Regions from separate parts of the Homo sapiens genome. Here region 1 is linked to region 2. A link means that fine-mapping ties the variant in region 2 to the plasma level of a protein whose gene starts in the linked region. Region 2 holds a variant in brackets. A gene starts in the other region. All regions are shown on their forward strands.

Region 1 (5,329 bases), not on the chromosome of region 2:
ACTTTTATCAGGTTGAGAAAGTTCTCAACTATTCCTAGTTAGTTGAGTGTTTTTGTCATGACAACGTGTTGGATTTTGTCAGTTGCTTTTCAAATCATTTTTATTTTTTATTTGATTGATTTGTTGTATTACATTTCCTGGAATAAATCCCACTTGGTTATGGTGTATGATCTTTTTACTGTGCTGTCGGCATAGTAATTTTATTTGCATACAGTTTTTTTTTTTTTTTTTTTTTTTTTACCTCCCTTTCCTTTGTTTGGTTTGGTCTAGTCAAGGCTTGTTAGTTTTGTTGATCTTCTCAAAGAACTAACTTTCGCATTCGTTGATTTCCTCTATTGTTTTGCATTCTCTGTTTTATTTATTCCTGCTCTAATCTTCATTTCCCTCCTTCTGCATGCTTTGGGTTTAGCTTGCTCTGCTTTTCTCTAGTTTCTTAAGGTAGAAGTTTGGGTTATTGTTTTGAGATGTTTCTTTTTTTTTTTTTTTAATGTGAGTGTTTACAGCTATAAGTTTCCTTCTGAGGACTGCTTTTGCTACATCCTATAAGTTTTGATATGTTGTGGACTTTTTTTTACATTTCAAAGTTGTTTTCTACTTTCTCTAGTGACTTTTCTTTTGACACATTGTTGTTGTTGTTGTTGTTTTTTCCTTTGAGATGGAGTCTCTGTTGGCCAGGTTAGAGGGCAGTAGCGTGATCTCGGCTCGCCGTAACTTCTGCTTCCTGGGCTCATGCGATTCTCCTGCCTCAGCCTCCCAAGTAGCTGGGATTACAGGCATGGACTACCACACCCGGCTAATATTTGTATTTTTAGTAGAGACAGGGTTTCACTATGTTGGCCAGTCTGGTCTCGAACTCCTGACCTCAGGCAGTCCACCCACCTCGGCCTCCCAAAATGCTAGGATTACAGGCATGAGCCACCACTCCTGGCCAGACACATTGGTTATTTAGGAATATGTGGTTTCCTTTCTGTCTGTTACTGATTTCTGATTTAATTCCATTGTGGTTTGAATGTATACTTTATGTGATTTCAGTCGGTTTACATTTACTGAGACTTGTTCCATAACCTACCATATGCTTTATCCTAGAGAACATTCCATGTGCAACTATTCTGTTGATGTTGGATAGAGTAGTCCTTCGATGCCTGCTAAGTCTATTTGGCTTATAGTGTTGTTCAAGTCTTCTATTTTCTTGTGGATCTTCTGCCTAAATTTTATTAATTAGTGAAAATGTGGTACCAAAGCTGTCAACTTTTATTGTTAAATTTCCTATTCTGCTGGGCACGGTGGCTCATGCCTGTAATGAGGTCAGGAGTTCAGCCTGGGCAACATGGTGAAACCACGTCTCTACTAAAAATACAAAAATTCGCTGGGCGTGGTGGCACGTGCCTGTAGTCCCAGCTACTCAGGAGGCTGAGGCAGGCGAATCGCTTGAACCCAGGAGGCGGAGGTTGTAGTGAGCCGAGATGGTGCCACTGCACTCCAGCCTGGGCAACAAGAGCAAAATTCTGTCTCAAAAGAAATTATAATAATAAAATAAAATAAAATTTCCTATTCTTCCCTTCAATTCTGTCAGTTTTTGCTTTCTGTAGTTTGGGGTGCTACTGTTAGGTATATATATGGTTATAGGTTTTACATCTTCCCAATGGGTTAATTTTGTGTTACCATGAAAGTCCCTTTTTATTTCCGGTAACATTAAAAAAAAATCTATTTTGTCTGATATAGGCATCACCAACTCCAGTTCTCTTTTGTTTACTGTTTGGTATACCTTTCTTTTGATCCTTTTACTTTCAACCTATTTGGGTCTAGTGGAGAGTTCTTATACTGCCTTAGGTTAGGGATTCATATTACATTATCATCATTAGTACTGTTATTTGACATTTGCTGTGCTGACTAGCTACTGCTGATAGGTTTTCTTTCCTCAACAATTCTGAGGCTCTATATTGAGTTATATTAGTACATCATCATGGAGAGTTAAAGGTAGGTAAGGATTATTTTCTGAACTGCAATATTGATTAAAGCCATGTGAATGTATAAGATTCTTAGAAGAGTTGACATTAAATCAAGGTGAAGCTGAGGTTTGAGCCTTACTTAAAGGCTGATATTTTCCACTCTAACTGCGGACAGTACTGTAGCACTGTTATAGTACCTGCTCTGAATGTTAGTCTAGCAACTCAGGGTCTTCTTCATGACAGCTGAACCTCAACCATGTGATGGTAAATGTGTAGCAGAGTATGCCTGGCATCCCACCTGCTCCTCCTCCCCCTCCTCCTTGACTGGTTCTGGAAAGCAAATAGGGTGTAACAATAGGAGTTCTGGAATGTTCCTGTGTGGGGCTGACCTTTGTATCGCTGTTAATCCTCTATTTTCAGACACAAAAATGATTAAGTTAAAACTGGATGAAAGTCTTTTCTGGGTCACAGGGCTGAGCTGCTTTTGCTCTTTGCAAATACAAAGAATTTAACAGGATTCTCCCCTTCTCAACTTCCTGTCCCCCACCCTGACCTTCGCACCTTCCCAATATGAGGAAAAAGCAGGAAGTTTTCCTTGCGGGTTTTTTTTATGATGACATGATGGGGCCAGTTGATCAATGGGGAAAACCCCATGTGGCAACACGCCTTCTGTGTACATTCCCAATATTTGCTATAAATAGGGCCATCCCAGGCTGCTGTCAGAATATAACAGCACTCCCAAAGAACTGGGTACTCAACACTGAGCAGATCTGTTCTTTGAGCTAAAAACCATGTGCTGTACCAAGAGTTTGCTCCTGGCTGCTTTGATGTCAGTGCTGCTACTCCACCTCTGCGGCGAATCAGAAGGTAAGTGTCGCTCTTTCCGCTAGCACAGAAGAAAGACTATTTTCATTTTCCTTTTAGCCTTGAGCTCAACTGGGGGTCCCTAAGGGATGGAAAACTGTTAGGAAGTATACAAGAGGTAGTGATGGAAGTTGTCTGCCCATGGTGGAGTGGAGGAGAGAAGAGTTACTGCTGCGGATCAGGCTTTCCTCTCTGCTGTCAATCTCAGCAGATTTGGGGAGTGGTGGGCTCTTAGAGATCCCTAAACTTCAGGATAAAGCCAAAGTGATGTTTCTGGGAGTGATATAAAGTGTGTAATGTTACCAGTAGATGGGGCCATTTTGAAATGTAGAGAATCCTCCTGTGTCCCCAACTTTCGTACCTCCCAACTTAATAGTTTTGGTAAAGTTCAAAACTCATCCTTTAGAAGTAGATTATAATACCTGACATCAACATCCCCACAAGGCATGGGGGACATTGCTTGCCAACTTTAAAATAACATTAATCCCTTACCTTACAGCATGTTGTAATCTGACTCGGGAATGTCCAAGTATTGCTTTATTGCTCAATAGTCACACAACACTTTTAGCAACAGGTGCATTCCTAAAAATGCACATTGAATTTTTTTTTTTTTCTGAGGCAGGGTCTAACTTCATCACCCAGGCCAGAGTGCAGTGGCATGATTACAGCTCACTACAGCCTCAACCTCCTGGAGTCAAGTGAACCTCCAGTCTCAGCCTCTTGAATAACAGGGACCACGGCCGTGTGCCACTCACCTGGCTAATTTTTTTACATTTTTTTTTTTTTTGTAGAGACAGGGTTTCACTGTGTTGCCCAGGCTGGTCTCGAACTCCTGGAGGCAAGCAATCCTTCCTCCTTGGCCTCCCAAAGTGCTGGGATTACAGGCATGAGCCACCATGCCCAACCACATGTTGAACTTTTATGAACAAAATTAAACATTCCTATTAATTAATAGGACAATTTCAAAGTGTTTTCACTCCTATAAATCATATTTCCCTTTGTAGCTCTATTTCTCAATACTTAGTAGCCAGATAATAGATTAAAATCTGCCAATTTATTCATTTTCTGCTTTTGGAAGTTTATCTACATAAGGGTTCCTTCAAGCAGTAGGGAAGGGGCTGCTCATATTCTTGAATGATTATAGTGAACTGAAATGAAATATTGTCAATTTGTATTTCTTACTGAAGATATCCCACTTATGAGAAGTCCTGTGTTTCTCAATTCTATTATTGAACCAAAACTTCTCGGCACACAAACTGTTTTTTCAAAGAACTGTAAACTATGTTAGATTGGTTCTCAACGACCTTACAAAGGTTTCCAAGACATTGAAACTCCTCCTCTAAGTGGTTTATTCGTCATATACATGAGATTCACTAGATTTTTCACAACTTAAGGTAGTTTTATAATACCAATCACAGGATAAGTTTATTCATGTGGATCCAATACCTTTCACTTTTTTTTTTTTTTAGCAGCAAGCAACTTTGACTGCTGTCTTGGATACACAGACCGTATTCTTCATCCTAAATTTATTGTGGGCTTCACACGGCAGCTGGCCAATGAAGGCTGTGACATCAATGCTATCATGTAAGTTATTAATTGATTTTAATTCAGTTGTATCAGGAATACCTAGAAACTTCAGTTTTAAAAATGTTTGCCTTTTTAGAGTTTCATTCAGAAATTACTGATGTTTTGAACATAAGATCTTATTTTAAAGAGAAAGAAATGATGTGGCAAAGATAGCTTTGTCTTAGTACATATCTACTTTAAAGTTCACTTTAAACAGGACTGGAATAAGGCAAAACCTTTTTTAAAAATTTTTTTTGGTCAAACGGAACTAGTATAGGGCAAAAATCACTTTCTAAGGCTATTAAAGTGATATATTAGGAAAATAGGGAAGATACACATTTCGAAATGAGCATCTTCTACCAGAAAGTGTTTGAGACCAAAAGTAAAATCTCAGACTAATTATACTATCACATATAATTTTCTTGATTTATATAGGATATTATATTTTGGAATTATACAAGTTATTGATCAGATACATACATATTCTATGTAACCACCAATAGCAAAATTATATGACAATTCTGGGACTTTATCTTCCTGCCATTGTACTATTATTTGTTACATTGCAGAGAAAGAGAGAATCACTTTGATTTTGCATTAATCTTCATCAGAAGCATTTTTTGTGCATTTTATTTTACCTCATCAACTGAAATGTTTAGTGTGTAATCAACTGGAATATAAAATTTCCATTGTATGTTCTATGAAAAACCCATTGAAAAGCTCATTAAACACAAATCAAATTTTCTGATTTTTCAGCTTTCACACAAAGAAAAAGTTGTCTGTGTGCGCAAATCCAAAACAGACTTGGGTGAAATATATTGTGCGTCTCCTCAGGTATGTTACACTGACATTTAGCCTTTGCAAATGTTTGAGGAAAGAGGAGTGTGCAAAGGGGTGGGCCGTAGGTTTTCTGGGATTCTTTAGTTTAACTATTGTGGAATTTTTAAAGG
Region 2 (5,332 bases):
AGTGTGTGCGCTCCTAGGCGCCGGGACCATGCCTCATTCATCTTGTATCATAGTGCTTAGCACAGTTTCCAGGGCATAATAGGTACTTGATAAATGTTTAAATGAATGATTTAAAAATCCACCCTGTAGTTTGCAGACCAGCCTGGCCAACCTGGTGAAACCCCGTCTGTACTAAAAATAAAAAATTAGCTGGACATGGTGGCGTGTGCCTGTAATCCCAGCTACTCGGGAGGCTGAGGCAGGAGAATTACTTGAACCCGGGAGATGGAGGTTGCAGTGAGCCAAGATTGCGCCATTGCACTCCAGCCTGGGCGACAGAGCAAGACTCCGTCTCAAATAATGATAATAATAATAAATAAAAATCCACCCTGTTTTCAGGGTCCAGCTCTAGCCCCATCACCAGGATAAAGTCTTCCCTGACCGCTGCACTCATAGTGTAGTTTCTGGAGCTTAGCTCAGTATTCTCCTGCTTTCTGAGTTCCTTGACAGGGATCATGACTGCACTGTCACCATTATTGATAACATTTATTGAATTAACAAGTGTCAGGCACCCAGCTACATGCTTTACACACATTATCCTATAATCTGTCTTGCTCCTCCTCAGGGCATAGCATGGCAAGCACTCAACATGTACCAAATAACTTCCATGTTAATGGATTCACTGTTAAATGTTAATTGAGCACCTACTATGCACCAGGCATCATTCTAGGTACTGATGATACAGTGATTAATAGAGCTGCCCTTTTATGGGAAATAGGGTGGACAGTAGCCATTCTCTGACTTTTAAGTCACTCCCTTGCCTGTGATCCAGTCTCCAGAGTGTCCTGAGGAACCCCATTCCAGCCCACCCTCCTCTACCATCCACAGACCTCACCCCTCTTCCTACCGGATCTTCATGCCGCAAAGCCCCAGGTGGGAGGCCAGTC[T/C]GCGCCAGTCATTGCCGGTGATGCTGTTTGGCTCCAATAACATCCGCAGCTGCTCAAAGAGCTCTGGGGGCAGCCTTAGGCAGGGAAAAGGGTGTTCTTGGAAGAAAGGGACAAACAGACCCACTCTGGTTCTCCCATATGCACCCTAAATGCTGTAGTCACCCTGTGGGTGCCAGGGTAGGAACCCAACATCCCCCAGGCAGCAGCCCAAGCAACCCCCGTCTCACCTATTGCATGGGGGCGGCTGGGAAACAGGTGGTGGCGCTGCCCAGGATTCCTCCTCTGATGCCTGGAATCTGAGGATTTCCATATACTTGGTCTCCAAGCCCTGAGTCAACACAGGGCAGGGAACACACTTAGGGGTCACAAGCCATCCCCCTGAGTAAGAAGCTGGAGTCCTACCTCCATTCCTCATGTCTCTCCTTCAGTCTGTCACTCAGAGCCACCTTACCAGGAGATACAACCCTGCTCCACCCAGCACCCTCTACCCACTGTCTCCCTGTGACTTCAGAACCGCACCTTCAGCCTTATGTTTGCCCCTGAGCTCTTTGGGAACTGGGACATGAAGACCAGAGTGCAGCCTGAGCCACCAGGGGAAGTCCTGGGTGGGGCCGTGGAGCAGTGGGAGGTCATCCAACCATAGAGACACTGATCTCAGCCATATGTGTACCTTCCTCCATTCCAACCTTCCCTTCCTCTTCTCCAAGTGACAACAGGGTATCTGCCTGCCCTCCACTAAGGTGCCACTATGGTTCCCCAAAGACTCTCAACTCCGATTTCTTCGCATCTTCCCTTGGTGCAGCAGGAGAGGAGAGATACCTAACTCCCAGCCTGCCTACTCAAGACCCTCTTCCTGGTCACTTCCCACACTGAAAATACAAAACATCATCTCTCAAATCCCACACTGAAGATACCAAACATCATCTCTCAAATGTAGACAATCAGCCTAGAAAGAAACCATATCAACTTGATGCCCCAGTTCTCTGAGTTGGGAGAAGGGGTTAAACTAGGGTTTGGTTCTTTTAGCTTCCTGCTGGATTCATCCACCGATAGACAAGGAGAGTCAGGGATGAGGGTAACTTGGAGCCCAGATGATCTCAGCCCCTCAAAGAGCTGGTATGGGGGCTCTATGGAAAGTGCCATCTTTACCTATGTGATTAAGACCATAGTTACTGGGCACCAGACCCTGTGCCCACTTTGCCTAGGATTTCCCCCAGGCCCTGCCCTTCCTCTGCCCCTCAGCTCCAACTCACATCCTGGAAGGTGTGCATGGTGACAATGATCTCATTGGTTAGTGCTGAACAGTCCTCATTCTCATCGGCTATAAAGAGAAGGTGACAGCGTGGCCAGTGAGTGAGGAAACGGCCTGGGGTAAGAGCAGGAGAAGGTAAGGGACTCTATAGTAAGACTTGGGAAATCTGAGGAAGCTGGGGTCCAACACTCCATTTTTCTCTCTGCAAAGATCTGTGTGGCTCCTGGCCTTTCAGGGAAGGTCTGTGTGCATGGCTGCATGGGGGTCTGCAGAGCTCCAGGGTTACTGGGAGGGAAGGAGAGGAGACAGGATGGGAAAAGAGAGGGGAGGAGGTACACACAGGGCTCCCGGACTACCTGCTTTTCTCCGGAAGCAGAAGGAGCGGAAGGGGCACTTTCCATGCCAGATGTGGAGATGGGGAACCAGCTGGCAACTGCTGTCATCCACATTCTCCCAACCTGGTGAGTAGGCAGACAGCAGAGGGCCTCAGAGAGTGGGGCCTTAAACAAGTATTGAAGGGGGCTGTGGGGAGGCATGAGGACAGAACAAAGGCAGGAGGGTCTCAAGGGAATGGGAATCCCCAGAGCCTGGGCTGGGACCCCAAGAGGGCCCTTGCACTATAAAAGCCTTCCATCCTTTCCTGCTTCTGTGGGGTATAACCCCTCTCCTTCCCACCTGCCACCTGGCATCACCCTGTCCAAGGAGTGAGTGGCAAGGGCTCAGTAGACAGCAGAGTGGTCAAAGCCCTGGGGGCTCCATGAGGCTACTGCTGGCCCAGAGGTCACAAACAGACTTGGGGCCTGGTGTGGTGGCTCACACCTATAATCCCAACACTTTCAGAGGCCGAGACGGGTAGATTACTTGAGGTCAGGGGTTCGAGACCAGCCTGGACAACATGATGAAACCCCGTCTCTACCAAAAATACAAAAAAATTAGCCAGGCATGGTGGTGGGCACCTGTAATTGCAGCTACTCAGGAGACTGAGGCAGGAGAATAACTTGAACCCAGGAGGCGGAGGTTGCTGTGAGCCAAGATCAAGCCACTGCACTCCGGCCTGGGCAACAGAGCGAAACTCCATCTCGGGAAAAAAAAAGAGAGAGAGACTTGGGATCCCCAGATCTCCAGATGTCCAGGGGAGGCCCAGAACCCTTCATTCCTGTGGGGCTCCCGATCATCCTATCCCACAGGCCACTGCCTCCCTCACCCTCTGAGATGTACGTGAGCTTCAGGCACTGGTCGCCCCTAGCCCCATTGAAGTCGAAGAGCTGGCAGGGCCCACGCAGGCGCCCACCATGGGGCTGCTCGTTGGTCAGTGCCCACTGCAGGGCGCAGGGCGTGTTGTTGAGGAAGTAGATACGCAGTTGCAGATGGGACTGTCCTGGCACCAGCGGTGAGCAGAATACGGCCAGCTGCAGCCATTTGCGGGCTTCGCGCCCCACAGGTGCCTCCAGCACACAGGTGTAGAGGCTGCAGAGGGAGCCAGTGGCAGGCACTAATGTGCAGGGAAGGCTAAGACACCAACACACTGCCACCAGCCTCCTGCCACCTGAGGGGCCTCTGTGGGGCCTTCAAGGAGGTTCAGAGAACACTCGAGGGGAGCACTTAGGGAGGAACTGGTAGGTTGGGGATGAAAAGTGAGCATGTCACAGTGACTGGTGACTGAATGGGGAGGAGAGCTGGCAGGGGAGAGAGGGAAAGTGGGCTCAGGGTGACCATGCTTGGGAGGGCACCCGCACATGGCCCTATTCCTGTCAATGGGTGGCAAGGAGGCTGGGAGGCAGAGGACCTAGGACTCTAGAAAGACAAAGAGAAGAAGGACAGAGATGGAATGGAGTCTTAGAGAACTGGTGCTAAGCCTGGGGACAGTCCTGAAAGGGGCACAGTGTAGAGAGAGATAATTTGAAAGACAGAGAGAGATGGGAAAGACAGGTCCCTCTTAGATGGAGAGATGGTGCTGAGTCAGACACTTCCAGACAGACAGAGAGACAGCAATGGGATTTGCAGTCATGGACATGATTGATGTGAGAAAAACTGCTACAAACATTAGGACAGAGGGGCCAGAAAGAGACACCAGGGGATAAAGGATTTGCAGACCATCTTCTATACAGAGAGATGAAGATAAGGCAGACAGAGAAAGTGGGCAGGAAAGACAGTCCTCAGAGAGATGGGTGTGGGAAGACAGGCCAATGGCATGTGCCTACCTGAAGTGGGAGAGGTGGATGCGACACTCATCCCGGGAGGCGTGGGCCCCCGGCCGCCCCAGGGGCCTCCATACCTTGGCATCCAGCAGGGTAGTGTTGCTGCTGTAGGTGCGAGCATGGCTGGGCTGCTCGGCACAGTGTTTGAACGTGAGAGTGCAAGGCTTCAGGAAGGAGGCCCCATGGGGGCCACATGCCACCACAGGGCTTACCAGCCCCTGGGCTTGGGACAGCGATGGGGCGTCCGACAGGTCCCACACCAGGATCAAAGACACCCGCTCCTGGCGGCCCACAGCCACAGCACCTGGCAGGGAGAGGGAGAGCTGAGATGGGCCTGGTAGGCAGGCACACCCCTGCCCCTGAAAGAGGCCAGGCCAGAGAGAAAGGAGGTGGGGCAGGAGCCCAGGAGAGACCCCCAGCAGGGCACACAGGGAAGTGGTATGAACAAGAGTAAGACGACTGTGGAGCTGACTTGTAGTGTAACCCTAAGCAAGACACTTCCCTTTCCACCCAGGCTGCTGCTAGCCCATAGTGTGCCTTGTGTGAATTTGCAAATGGTGCTCTTCCCTCCCTTTACTAGAGAATTGTCACAGCATACTGATTCATTAGAACAAGGCACTTTACTTCCACCTGCCAGGAAGTTGTCCCAAAAGATATGTAATATGTCCATCCCTGAAGTCAATAAAGCTATACTCAAAATATAAACAATTATCAGAAGTAAAAGGTGTCTATGAACATTGCTCCCTCAGATGTGGTGACCTAATGTACAGTCTGACCAACTGTATGCGGAGATGAGAGCCAGGAGCTGTTACCTGGTGGGATGAGCAAGGAGATGCCTGTATCCTGGAGCATCAGGCAACCGCCGCGGTGATCCACCTCTCGAGCCGAAAACACCAACAGTTTGTGCATCAACTGGCGGACCATGGTCTGGCCTTGAGTGGGTGTGTGTAGCTCCT

Direction of the effects. Positions count from the first base shown, and alleles are read on the strand shown. Strength reflects both the effect of a copy and how common the allele is.
For the plasma level of the protein whose gene starts at base 2,671 in region 1, T is the high allele of the variant in region 2 and C is the other (moderate association).

What was found. PIP is the posterior inclusion probability: the model's chance that the variant is causal. The UK Biobank Pharma Proteomics Project read protein levels with antibody pairs (Olink). The fine-mapping took linkage between variants from a reference panel, not from the people measured, so its PIPs are less certain.
Region 1: CCL20 starts here. The variant in region 2 is fine-mapped to the plasma level of the CCL20 protein (UK Biobank, PIP above 0.99).

The regions. Positions count from the first base shown.
Region 1 is chr2:227,811,172-227,816,500 of GRCh38, forward strand. It overlaps CCL20 (C-C motif chemokine ligand 20), which reads left to right and starts at 2,671. Exons shown (of 4, transcript NM_004591.3): 1 at 2,671-2,816; 2 at 4,283-4,397; 3 at 5,136-5,213. The coding sequence starts at 2,741.
Region 2 is chr6:41,029,502-41,034,833 of GRCh38, forward strand. It overlaps UNC5CL (unc-5 family C-terminal like), which reads right to left. Exons shown (of 9, transcript NM_173561.3): 2 at 5,189-5,332; 3 at 4,380-4,680; 4 at 3,383-3,645; 5 at 2,535-2,636; 6 at 2,180-2,247; 7 at 1,154-1,254; 8 at 887-1,000. Among named protein-coding and RNA genes, the nearest start is that of UNC5CL, 7.1 kb to the right of the region's middle. The variant T/C (reference allele first, on the strand shown) is at 927.